Regions from separate parts of the Homo sapiens genome. Here regions 2 and 3 are each linked to region 1. Evidence: fine-mapped expression QTL. A gene starts in region 1. Each other region holds a variant in brackets. All regions are shown on one strand. Distances are from middle to middle. Region 1 holds the start of DNAAF11 (dynein axonemal assembly factor 11). Region 2 overlaps TMEM71 (transmembrane protein 71). Region 3 overlaps TMEM71 (transmembrane protein 71).

Region 1 (4,243 bases):
AGAGAGAACATGTAAAAAGGGTTTGTGGCACAGCAAAAGAGGACCACTTTCTCCACCCACATCTTTCAAATCTGTCCACTCGCCTCAGTCCTGTGGGCGGCAGTGCGGTGTAATGCAGGACCCAGAGGAAATCTTCGTGGGTTCTGTTCCCAGCCCTGATAGTTACTGTGTGATTTACTCTCTGTGCCTCACCAAAGAAATAGAGATGTCAGTAATCCTTCCCTGCCTTAAAAGGCTGCTGGGAAGATCAAACAAGAGAATGCAGGTAAAGCATGTTAACCAAGCCTGGCACATCAGAGCTACTCATTGGAGGAGTGCTTGTCATCTGTCCTGTTGCCACGACCTCAGTTCAGCCTACTATCTCCCACTCGAACTCCTATAGGGCCAAGCTATGCCCATGAACAAAACCTTTTGGTTTCTCTGTGGCTCTTTTGATAAATTTCTAAATCCTAAGTACAAAACCTGTATGAGCGGATCCCTGCCTACCTGTCAGGCCTTCCTTATCTCTTTGCTCTCCACTCCTTCTTTCTGTCTCACACCAGTTCCTGTCAGTGACAATTAGCCACCAAGAAGCCCTGCTCTTTCTCACCTCTGGGCAATTCACTGAGCTTTCCTGTTTCCTTTCCAGACAGCACTGCTTCCTCAGAGAAGCCTCCACCCACCTTGGGGTTAGGTCCCCTACCCACACCCTCAGGGCACAGGCACCCCTCTCTCTCCTGGCTGTAACCACTATACTTCTGTTTGTCTTCTCCCTCCCTAGGAGGGTAGGCCCACATCTGCCTCCTTCCTCACTGTATCCTGCATTCAATACCTGATTCAAGGTAGACACTCCGATGCAAGTCTGACAAGTTAATGATTTAACAAATCAAAGTGGGCACGACTCAGAGAAAGAGGGCAAAGGAAAATTCCCGACATAAAAAAGCGAAGAAGAAGGAGAAGGAGAAGGAGGAGAAGGAGCAGGAGGAGCAGGAGCAGAAGGAGCAGGAGGAGGAGGAGCAGGAGGAGGAGGAGCAGGAGGAGGAGGAGCAGGAGGAGGAGGAGCAGGAGGAGGAGGAGGAGGAGGAGAAGGAGGAGGAAGAGGAGGAGGAGAAGGAGAAGGAGGAGGAGGAGAAGGAGGAGGAGGAGAAGGAGGAGGAGAAGGAGGAGGAGGAGAAGGAGAAGAAGAAAAAAACCAACTAGGGTGAGACCAGGGGATGGGGAGACAGCCCTGAGAAGAGAGGAAGAAATATCAGTAGCTGATTTAGGAAAGGAGTTTCAACATTTACAAATCACTCCCCCCCGACCCCCACCTCTCCCACTTGCAGGCTGTCAGGTCTTCCAGGGCAGAAAGCCCATCATCTGGAGCAGTCTCTTGATTTAAAAAAAGTTAATTATGACATTTTTACAATGATAAGTGATCAATTAGGTAGAGCTGTACAAAACTGCCATATGGGGAGCTCAAAAACGTTGTCGATATCAAAATGGTTCATACAATATAAATAACTTACCCGCATCACCTTGCAGTTTGTTAGTATATTCTTAAAGAAACACGTTTACTACCGGGCGCAGTGGCTCACGCCTGTAATCGCAGCACTTTGAGAGGCCGAGGCGGGCGGATCACCTGAGGTCAGGAGTTCGAGACCAGCCTGGCCAACATGGCAAAACCCCGTCTCTACTAAGAATACAAAAATTAGCCTGGCGTGGTGGTGCACGCTGTAATCCCAGCTACTCAGGTGGCTGAGGCAGGAGAATTGCTTGAACCCGGGAGGCGGAGGCTGCAGTGGGCCGAGATCGCGCCGCTGCACTCCAGCCTGGGCGACAGAGCAAAACTCTTGTCTCAAACAAACAAACAAAAACACGTTTATAACACTTACTGTGTCTAAAACAGTAGTATGATTGCCATTATTTTGGAGATGAAGAAGCTGAGGCCCAAGGGGTGAAGTCACTCGCTCAAAGTCACAGGAAGAGGGAGGACTTCAACCCTGGCTCCAGAGTCGGAACCCTCCACCATTAGGCTACACTGCCTTCCGGAATGAGTCCGAAGATTGCGGCTTGGAGACAGTGACTGGCCCACGTTCACAGCCAGTAAGGAGCCACTTGGCCGGAACGTGGTGTGTCTGGCGCCAAAACCCCTGCACGTTCCCCGACCCCTTTCCTGGAGTCCAGTGCCTTTCTGCCTCTTCCTCCCCTTCCCACGGCCCCGCCCATTTTACAGATTAGGAACCTGAGCTGGAAAAGGCCAGGCTGTCCGGCCAGTCTGCAGAGGACCTGGTGCAGCCGGGGCTGCGGTGCGGAGGGCCGGGTGGGGTTAGGGTCCGCCCAGGCGCGGGGGAACCGACAGCGCAGGGCGGGAGCGGGCGGCGAGGATCCCACGAGACCCGGGACTACTTCCACAAGGGGAACGATCGAGGACGGAAGGTGGAGGGGGGCTTACTCCAGCCCATGGCGCCTCTCCAGTTCGCTGACCCCGCAAGCCGGACCCGGACCTCGAATGACGCTTTTCACCCTTCACCCCTGCTCCTCAGCGCGTCCCCGTCGGAATTCAGGAGCCATGGCAACGGGGACTCTACGGCGGCCGCGCGGGACCAAAACAAGCCGCGTTTCCTGAGCTCCGCGGAGCAAGCAGAGGAGACCGCAGTGAAGGGGCTCAGCAGACAGGGGTTCCCCAACCCAAACCCAGTCTTCGTCCTCGTCGCACTTCCGACTTGCCACAGACTGCTTCCCTCTCCCTGAATCAATGGTTTAGAGTGAACAAAGTATGAGGACGCTTCTCTTTTCTGTGCCTTCCAGGCTTGCCTTCCAGACCGCCTTTGACTTTTTCCTTTTTGTGTTTGATTTACAGCTTCCAGAGCCAACAGATCTGGATTTGGCCCCCAACTCTACCAGCGGCGTGACCTTACACTTCCTTCTCCTCAGTTTGCACATCTGTAAGATGAGAAATAACCTAAGAGGATCACTGTGAAGCTTTAATTAGATAATTTGAGTGAATGAAAGACACTATGAAAACAACAGGCTCACTATAAAGATTCGTTGTCGTTGTCATATTCCAGCTTTTTAAAGTCACTCTCCAACACTCGTTTCCGGCTAACAAGCTTTCCAGAAACGCCACCCATTACCCCCTCCATCAATTTCCCTATTCTCCACTCTCTTAATTGTAAAATGTAGGAAGTATATCTCCTACAGCCCCACACTCCCCTCACGTTTCCCCAGACCCTTCTCCAAAAGTGTGCAACGCGCCTTCTCCCATTCTAAACTAGGAAGCACATCAGCAAGCTCATTCACCCTCAGATCTTAGTGTTAGCACTTTAATGCGTTAGCTTCCCAAGAATCTTTAAAAGGTACCATTATTATGAAAGTAATTATTATTCTTTACTCCATTTGCAGAAAAAGGAGGGGGGCAATATGTAAAAGGTAAAACCTTCTCCCATCCCAGTCGTTTTAAACAGTATGGAGTGCGTGCTTCTTATCTTGATGTGTGTATTATGTTTGCATTTTAAAAGAAGATTCCTAGAGCAATGCTGAGTGCAAAGAAATTAATTTTTCTAGCGAATAGCTGTTAAGCATTTACAGCTGGCAATTATTAGAGTTTGCCAGGTAGAGACAAGGTCATGAACTTGGACAGAGAGGCAGGAAAGTCTAACAGAGTGAGGTGATGGGGGGAAGCAGAAACATCAGTTTGGCAATAAAGAGAGCTAGATAGAAGGGATCTTCGAACAGTAAGAATGAGAGATTAGATCGGGGGTAATGGGGGCCTTAAATGCCAGGCCAAAGGAACTGAACTGGAAGAGTGGGATTTCAGGCACTATTTCCCTGAATATTTGGATTTCCAAGGAGGCCTCCCAAAAGGCACTCAAACTATAAACTTACCTGACATCCACTATTATTTTTCTGAAAGCAGGTTAGTGTGAGGTGAACAGTATTAGCTCTGGCATTGGAAACATAGATTAAATACACAGATTTATTACTGTGTGGCATCAGACAGATGACTTCACCTTTGAAAGCTGAAACTTCTCTATTTCCACATGATGATGACAATATGGGTAAACATCTGTGGTCGTGCCACTGACACGCTGACACTGACACGTGACACTGAGCACTGATGTCTGATTACTCACAAAGGAGATGAAATGCTATTAGCAGCAGGCAAGTTTAGCAAATTCGCCTGTGCTTGAATTGTGCATTTTAACAACAAGGGGTTCATCAAGGCTAAAAAGGATCTAGCTTCTAGAAGGAAGCTACTACTGGGCAGAAAGATTAGTTTCTA
Region 2 (4,243 bases), 64 kb after region 1:
ACGGAGACTGAAAGTAGATGAATATTGGTCGTCAGGGGCTGGTGGGGAAGGAGGAGTGACTGCGAGTGAGTATCAGGTTTCTTTTTGGGGCTGATGGAATGTTCTGGAACAGGAAAGCAGTCGTGATTGCATGGCCTCCCTGTGACTATACTAAAAAATCGCTGAATTGTATACGTTAAGTTGGTAGATTTTAAGGAACGTGGATTATATCTCAATTAAAAAGTAACGAGAGCTCTGTACTAAGATATTTGTGCCACTCTGTCAGAAAGAGTCAGAGAGATAACTTCTCCTTTGCCTTTGGAGGGAAGATTCCACACATAACACATCTACCAGGGACTACAGAATTCTTGAGTTGACCTCCTTATCAAGCTGTGCTTCATTAGCCAGTTCTTCATATTCTTTTCTTTCATAACACCACACTCTCTTGCTTCCTTGCCTGAGAAACTTTCCCCAAAGAGCTTTTTCCCAGGATTAAGAGCACATGCTCAGACTTTTCTCTTCAAATCCTGGCTATGCGACTTCTTACCTGTGTGGCCTCATATATAGTACCTAAGCTACCTTAGCTTCTTCCCCTGGAAAATGGGGATAAATAATAATAACTCAGAGGCTTTGCAGAGAAGTGATGACGTGACATGTGGCTTTCTTGGAACTGTGCTTGCCCCTAGCACTCACACAATTAGGGATCATTATTACTGGGGCTTCTGTTCAACCTCCTGAATTCCTTTCTTACCGCTCCTTTCTTCTCATTCACTTGTTTTCCATAAGTAGACTTCTTTATTCCAAAAAACTGTATTGCTTCTCAGATTGGCTTATGTATCAACTGTATTCCTTCTCAGATTGGCTTATGAATTACTCCTGAACCCCCTTCTTATGTTTCCAAACCTCTACTGGTTATCTATTTCCCATAAGATATCTCAAATTCAACCCATAAGAAATACAATTCATTGTCTGTTTTGATGATCCTCAGCTGTTCTTTTCTGCCTTTTTAGAGCTAATGTGTATTAAGCAGAATACCAGCCCCTGGTATTCATAAGAGATATTAGAAGTGTGACATTTTTCATGAATTATTGCATTTCATCCTCCCCATTCTATATGCTATTTTTTTATTTTATATATAAGAAGTAGAGGATCAGAGAGGTTAGTTAATAACTTGCCCAAGAACATTCAGGTGGGAAAAGCTGGTTCTAGGATTTGAATTCAGGTTCATCTAGTTCAAAAGCTCATTTTCCTTATCACTCTACCACACTATCTTCCAGCCCTTGGTGACTTGCAGAATTTTTTATGCAGTCTCCCAAATTAAATACCTCAGTTTTCTTTGATTCTCCCACGTTCTCACTACTATATTCTATCTATCACTAACCTGTCAATTCTACCTTGGAAAATATTCTTTAAGTCTCTTCCTTCCTCCCTATTTCCTGCCACTTCCTTAGGATACTGGTTGATTTTAATTGCCTCAGAGCTCCCATCCAATCCTCAATTGTGCTACTGCAAAGATAACTTGAAAATTCCAAATCTGATTGCATCATCACCCTGCTTAAGAGAATCAAAAAATATTCTTGATTGATTAGATAAAACCCCAAATCCTCAATATGGCATAAAAGGTTCTTCAAATATCTACAATTAATATTTCTGGCCTCACCCCCCACATCCCTGCTCTTTCCCCTCTCCTCTTCCTGCTTTTACACTCTTGTTATTGTGGAAAACTAGAATCACTCAATTTAAGTAATCCTTTGATCATATTAAGAACTGTTTCTTCATTTAACAAGCACTTATTGCATTCTTAAAACTAATCTAGTATTACATGCACACACACACACACACACACAGGAATATATGTAAAAATTGGTGGAATCTTCATGGCATTGTGCCAACGTCCATTTCCTGGTTTTGATAATGTGCTATAGCTGTATAAGTAGTTATCAGTGGGCAAAGCTGGGTGAAGCATACACTGACCCTCTCTATACTATTTTTTGTAACATTTTGTGAATCAAAGTTACTGAAAATTAAAAAAAAATG[T/C]TACGTGTGTCTTCTGTCTAGGAAGCAGATTAAGAAAAATCATAGCCATGTAATTATTATACACTTAAGTTAATAGATTATTGCATTATACGACTCCTCTAGCTTGCTCTTTCGGCCTGCACTATGAGGGACATGATGGATTTCTCCTTGAAAAGGAAAACAAAGCCCTTCCGGGCAGCAGAGCAGAGTCTGGACTTTTAAATCAGATAGACCTCGGTTGAATTCCAACTCTGCTGTTTTTGTTTTTGTTTTTGTTTTTGAGATGGAGTCTCGCTCTGTCACCCAGGCTGGAGTGCAGTGGCGCGGTCTCCGCTCACTGCAAGCTCCGCCTCCCAGGTTCACGCCATTCTCCTGCCTCAGCTTCCCGCATAGCTGGGACTACAGGTGCCCGCCACCATGCCCATCTAATTTTTTGTATTTTTAGTAGAGACGGGGTTTCACCATGTTAGCCAGGATGGTCTCGATCTCCTGACCTCGTGATCCGCCTGCCTCGGCCTCCCAAAGTGCTGGGATTACAGGAGTGAGCCACCGTGTCAGGCCCCAACTCTGCTGTTTATAAGCTAAATTAACTTGGGCGAGTTCCTTAACCCTGAACTTCAGTTTTATCATAATTATAATAAATATGATAATATGACCTACTTCTTATGAGTTTTGGGGATATTTAAACAAGATAATGTATGTAAACAAGCTAATATATTTTAAAAAGACAAAATGTGAAGTGCTCAGCATGGAATAAGCACCCTTGACTTCTCTTTTTCTCTCACAGCCACGTAGGCAAATCTTGTTGAGTCTACCTGTAAGACGAATCTGGAATCCTACTTCTCATCACCATTCTGCTATCATCTCAGTTCAAGCTGCCATTATCTCCCACCTGAATCACACCAATAGCCTCTTAACGTGTTTCTTGCTTCTGCTCCTAATAGCGGACATCTAATCTGAACTCAGCAGCTGGAATAATCCTTTTAACATGTAAATTGAAACAAGTTATTCCTCAGCTCAGAATCCTCCAGTGGTTTGCCCTCCACTCAGAGTATGAAAGCAAAGCCTTTGAAATGACCCCACAGCTCCCCTTGTTCTTTCCCACTTGCATTCCTGACACACCTTTCAGTCTTTTCCCTACTATCCCCCCTCACTCACTCAGCCCAGTGCAGGCTCTGAGACTAGAACTTGTACACCAGCATTTCACTTGCCTGGATTGTTCCTCCCCCAGATATCCACAGAGCTGTTTTGCTTTTGCTTTTAAGCCAATGCTCAAAAGTTCTTCTCAATGAGGCCTTCTCTAACCATTTTATTTACATTTGCAATCCCCATCACTTCCCCTTTTCTTGTTTCCCATACCACTCACCACTTATTAACATGCTACATAATTTATTTATTGTCTATCTCCCCCAGTAGAAATGCAAGTTCCACAAGAGCAAGTCATTTTGTCCATTTTATTCACCACTATGTCCATTGTGTAGGATAATGCCTGGAACATCATTGGCCCTCAATAAAATCTTCCAAATGAATTCATAAATGAATTACAGCAGAGTGAGTGACATAAGTAAAGCCACAGATGTGTGGAAGAGCAGGATCCATTCAGGAAACTGAAAGATCAGTGTGATCTGTGTCAATTGCATGTAAGGGAAAGGACAACGGTGGAGTTGAAGACGCGACCAGCCACACGGACCTTTGAAAAGTGCCATTGCACAGGGCTTCTTGCTCCCGAGGGCCTTTTTCTTGGTTTAACAGTTTTTCTTGGTTGACACTTGAGATTCTTAAGCATTTTTGAACAGGGGGTCCTGTATTTTATTCTGCACTGAGCCTGAAAATTATGCAGCCAGTTTGGGTTGGAGAAGTAGGAAATATTCAAAAGGCCTTGCATGCTGTGTTAAGGAATGATGACAACGCCACATTTATGCCTTAAAAAGGTTAGCCTCACAGCAGTTTGGAAGATAGAATGGGGAAGCTGGGAATATCATCCTAGCTCATCTCTGCCTAGCCATCCTATTCATCCTTTAAGACCCACTCAGGGCTGGGCACAGTGGCTCACACCTGTAATCCCAGCACTTTGGGAGGCTGAGGCGGGTGGATCACGAGGTCAGGAGATCAAGACCATCCTGGCCCACATGGTGAAACCCTGTCTCTACTAAAAATACAAAAGTTAGCTGGGTGTGGTGGCGCGTGCCTGTAATCCCAGCTACTCGGGAGGCTGAGGGAGAAGAATTGCTTGAACCAGGGAGACGGA
Region 3 (4,243 bases), 52 kb after region 1:
CTCACTGCAGCCTTGACTTCTTAGGCTCAGGTGATTCTCCCACCTCAGCTTCCCAGCTAGCTGGAAATTCAGGCATGCACCACTATGCCCAGATAATTTTTTGTAGAAATGGGGTCTCACCATGTTGCCTAGGCTGGTCTCCAACTCCTGGGCTCAAACGATCCTGTCACCTCAGCCTCCTGAGTAGCTGGGACTACAGGCATGAGACACCATGACTGACTAATTTTTGTATTTTTTGTAGAGACAAGGTCTCACTATGTCACCCAGGCTGGTCTGGTACAACCTTTTAAAGAGTAACACAGACACAGAAGAGAAGAGACAACAAAAGACAGAGAATGCCAGGATCCTGCACTGTAAGCCTGGAATTTTCATTAAGATGAGCCAATAAATTCTATTGATTAATCCACTTTGAGTTGGGTTTCCATCCATTGGAACTCAAAAATCTTCAACTGATACAACTGATGTATCTGCCTATATCTTTGGCACCTGGAAAAGAACACACATGCAATACCTACATGTGAAGGGCTTAATGGAAGATGGAGACCTTGTCCACCCAGGACTTCATAGCTTAGTGAGAAAGAGGAAAATAAACAGTTTCTATAGTGATATATAGAGTGCTAGGGAATCAAGGCGAAGTGAAGCGCTACCTCCACCAGCCAGAAGGGGGTAGAGAAGGTGCATAGAGGTGGTCTCATTTAATTTGAGACTTGAGGAAGAGTAGGAGGCCACCCAGGTATAGCAGGTGGGAGAGAGATTCCAGACCCAGCAAAGAGCTTATATTTGTTCTTACAAAACTCTTGGCAAAGAGTACAAAGGTTAACTTTACCTGTCTGAATCTGAATATTCTTATGTGTAAAATGGAGGTAGCACACTTATTAATTGGTCCACCAGTAATGAAGCATCATCTCTGTGCCTATGTGGGCATTTTGGAATTCACAGATGACAATGACCTAGTGCTTATCTTTAAGGAGCTCACAGAGGCAAACATGCAGTGACAGTGCAAATAATGGGCATGAGAAAGAGAAGTCCTGGGAGCTAGGGGAGCACCAAGAAGGGTGGGCTCCCTGGAGGAGGTGGCTATTGAGCCTTCTTAGGTGTTGATAACCTGTCATTTCAACACCTGGAAAGGGAACTATAAAAAAACAAAAACCAAACCAAAACAAAAAAAACCCTTGAACACTTATCTAGTAGCTGCACTAGGAACAAAATGTACAAAGCATATTGATCTTCAGGACTAGAAGAGTGATGGCCAGTGAAGTGAATATTTATGATTTTTTGAAAGCAAATAAACAGAAAATATTTTTTCCATTTAACTTCAATGTTATGTAACAATAACTTCACATTTACTGAGTATTCAATAGACATGACATAGTATGCTAAGTACTTTACATGAGTTATTTTAGTCATGACAAGGTAGGAATTATGATCCTCTCCATGTAGAGATAAAAATGAAGTTTGAGAGGGTTTGGTAAACTGCTTCTGAGTTATAGCTAAGGAGTAGGGATCTGGGCTTTTAATCTCAGCAAGCCAATGACAGAGTGGGCTCTTTCACCTTGGTGCAGCACCATGTCCAAACATGCTTAATCTGACATTAGCAAACCAGAGACTAAGGGACATGCTTGTTGAATTTATTACAGCTTTGCTCCTGCCAGAAAATACCAATGCCTTTATTATCTTTTGACTTTTCCTTGTCAGAAGCATAGCATTAAAGGATGTTCTTTTTGTTGTTTCCTCTTCTTCTTCTT[C/T]TTTTTTTTTTTTTTGGAGTCTTACTCTGTCACCCAGGCTGGAATGCAGTGGTATGATCTCGAGTGATCTCGACTCACTGCAACCTCCACCTCCCAGGTTCAAGTGACTCTCCCTGTCTCAGCCGCCAGAGTAGCTGGGATTACAGGCATGTGCCACCATGCCCAGCTAATTTTTCTATTTTTAGTAGAGATGGACTTTTGCCATGTTGGCCAGGCTGGCCTCAAACTCCTGACCTCAGGTGTTCCACCCGCCTCAGCCTCCCAAAATACTGAGATTACAGGTGTGAGCCACTGTGCCTTCTTATGTAGTATGTCCAATACACAGCTAAGAATTAAAATAGCAAACATCTGTGTATCTTCCACTTTGCTTTATTGAAGCCTAACATTTTACAAAATATTCTCAGAATTTTTTTTTTTTTTTGAGATGGAGTCTCGCTCTGTCACCCAGGATGGAGTGCAATGGCGCGATCTCAGCTCACTGCAACCTCTGCCTCCTGGGTTCATGCAATTCTCCTGCCTCAGCCTCCCGAGTAGCTGGGACTATAGGCACCCGCCACCATGCCCAGCTAATTTTTTGTATTTTTAGTAGAGACAGTGTTTCACCATGTTAGCCAGGATGGTCTTGATCTCCTGACCTTGTGATCCGCCCGCCTCGGCCTCCCAAAGTGCTGGGATTACAGGCCTGACCTGCCGTGCCCGGTCTCTGAATATTTTTTAAGTAAAACACTGCAGATCCAGTTACTGATGCCTCTAACATGACACCCAAAGGCAGTCATCTCCTCTGCAAAGGGTCACCTGGGCTTTGGCAGAGGCCCCATGTCCTCCCTTCCTCGCACAGGTTGGTACCAGCTCCTAACTGCATTTTAGTCATCTCCAAGTCATTCTCAGGCTCTGAAAGGAAGAATTCTTTGGGTGTGGCAAATATTTAAAACACCTGAACTCACCTGAATGATCCGAACTATTCTCTTGGAAACGTTCAGAAGCTGTCAACTGGGACTGAAGAGACAAGCTATGGGAGTTTCCTCCAGGAGGCTGAGATATGATGTGGCTGGAAGAGGAGGTGATCACAGACTCTGCATTCATCTTCCCTGACTCCCAGTCATCAGTCAGAGAAGAACAGTCTAAATCATCTGCTGAAAAAGCAGAGGGGTTCAGTGTGAGTGTGTGTGTGTGTGTGTGTGTGTGTGTGTGTGTGTTCAGTGACTGCTCAATGCACAGTTAGTTCCTAATAATCACAAAAATAGTAATATTGATACGGTATTGCACTACCATAGTGGGATGGGAGAAGGATTTTTGGATGAGATGAGATGATGTATTCGTCTGTTTTCATGCTGCTGATAAAGACTTTCCTGAGACTGGGTAATTTATAAAGAAAAAGAGATTTAATGGACTCACAGTTCCACATGGCTGGGGAGGCTTCACAATCATGGTGGAAGGCAAGGAGGAGCAAAGTCACATCTTACATGGATAGTGGCAGGTAAAGAGAGAATAAGAGTCAAGTGAAAAGAGAAATCCCTTGTAAAACCATCAGATCTCATGAGACTTATTCACTATCATGAGAACAGCATGAGAAAGACCCATCACCATGATTCAATACCCTCCCACCAGATCCCTCTCACAACATGTGGGAATTGTGGGAGCTACAATTCAATATGAGATTTGGGTGAGGACACAGGCAAACCATTTCAAATGGCATTTCAATTTGTCTTCATACTTGAAGGTTGAAGAGAAATATCTTCAGTGCAGAGATAAACAAAGGCCAGAGGCATCTTCAATGACACTGAAGTTTGTATAGATGGATTTAAAGGATATGTAGTCAGTATATGAACCTCACATCTTTATAGGACCAAACTTTACAGCAGTCAACTCTTTCTACTTCTGATTCATTTATTCATTCAACATTTATTGAATGTGACTATATATTAGAAACTGACCTAGCTGCTGGGATATAGTGGTGAATTAGAACAACATCTCTGTCCTTACATATTGCTGAGTGGCAGGGAAGAAAATATCTTGTGATAAGTGTCATGAAGGAAATTCTGCCTCTATAAAATACATTGAAATGCCTAGATAAAATATAGCAACCATCTGTTTAAATTTTTTTATTCAAAGAGGCTATTTCATACACACATAGCTTCAAGAACATGCACCCATTTTCTCCTATGATGATTCATACATAAATATATTTTACTTGCCCTAAACTTAGCCTGACATTCTCACAAAAAGTCAAGTTTATTGCAAAAGCATGCATGCAACTTCAAGTTTCAAACATGCTAAGATGATTCCTCATAACACTTGGTGTCTTCAATGTGAGGTCACCAAGGAATGAATTTTAATCCTTGATTCTTAGTTTGAGTCAGAGATTAGGGGATCCAAAACTCTATAAGCCAAAGCTTCCTTGGAAAGGATGAATGTGTTAAGAATGCCTTTCAACCACAGGGATAGTTAAGCACCACACCTCTGACTCAACCACTGGAAGTCTCCCATTTGGCTCACCT

The links. PIP is the estimated chance that this variant, and not a neighbour inherited with it, causes the effect.
Region 2: its variant is the best candidate, but not a certain one, in a credible set for the expression of DNAAF11 in blood mononuclear cells (TOPMed, PIP 0.76).
Region 3: its variant is the best candidate, but not a certain one, in a credible set for the expression of DNAAF11 in Th2 cells (Schmiedel 2018, PIP 0.64).

The regions. Positions count from the first base shown.
Region 1 is chr8:132,673,071-132,677,313 of GRCh38, forward strand. It overlaps DNAAF11 (dynein axonemal assembly factor 11), which reads right to left and starts at 2,475. Exons shown (of 12, transcript NM_012472.6): 1 at 2,414-2,475. The coding sequence starts at 2,423. LOC105375767 (a long non-coding RNA gene) reads left to right here and starts at 2,560. Exons shown (of 2, transcript XR_928665.4): 1 at 2,560-2,735; 2 at 2,822-2,988.
Region 2 is chr8:132,737,055-132,741,297 of GRCh38, forward strand. All of the region lies in intron 5 of TMEM71 (transmembrane protein 71), which reads right to left. Among named protein-coding and RNA genes, the nearest start is that of TMEM71, 21 kb to the right of the region's middle. The variant T/C (reference allele first, on the strand shown) is at 2,017.
Region 3 is chr8:132,725,109-132,729,351 of GRCh38, forward strand. TMEM71 (transmembrane protein 71) reads right to left here. Exons shown (of 10, transcript NM_001382403.1): 6 at 2,690-2,878. Among named protein-coding and RNA genes, the nearest start is that of TMEM71, 33 kb to the right of the region's middle. The variant C/T (reference allele first, on the strand shown) is at 1,746.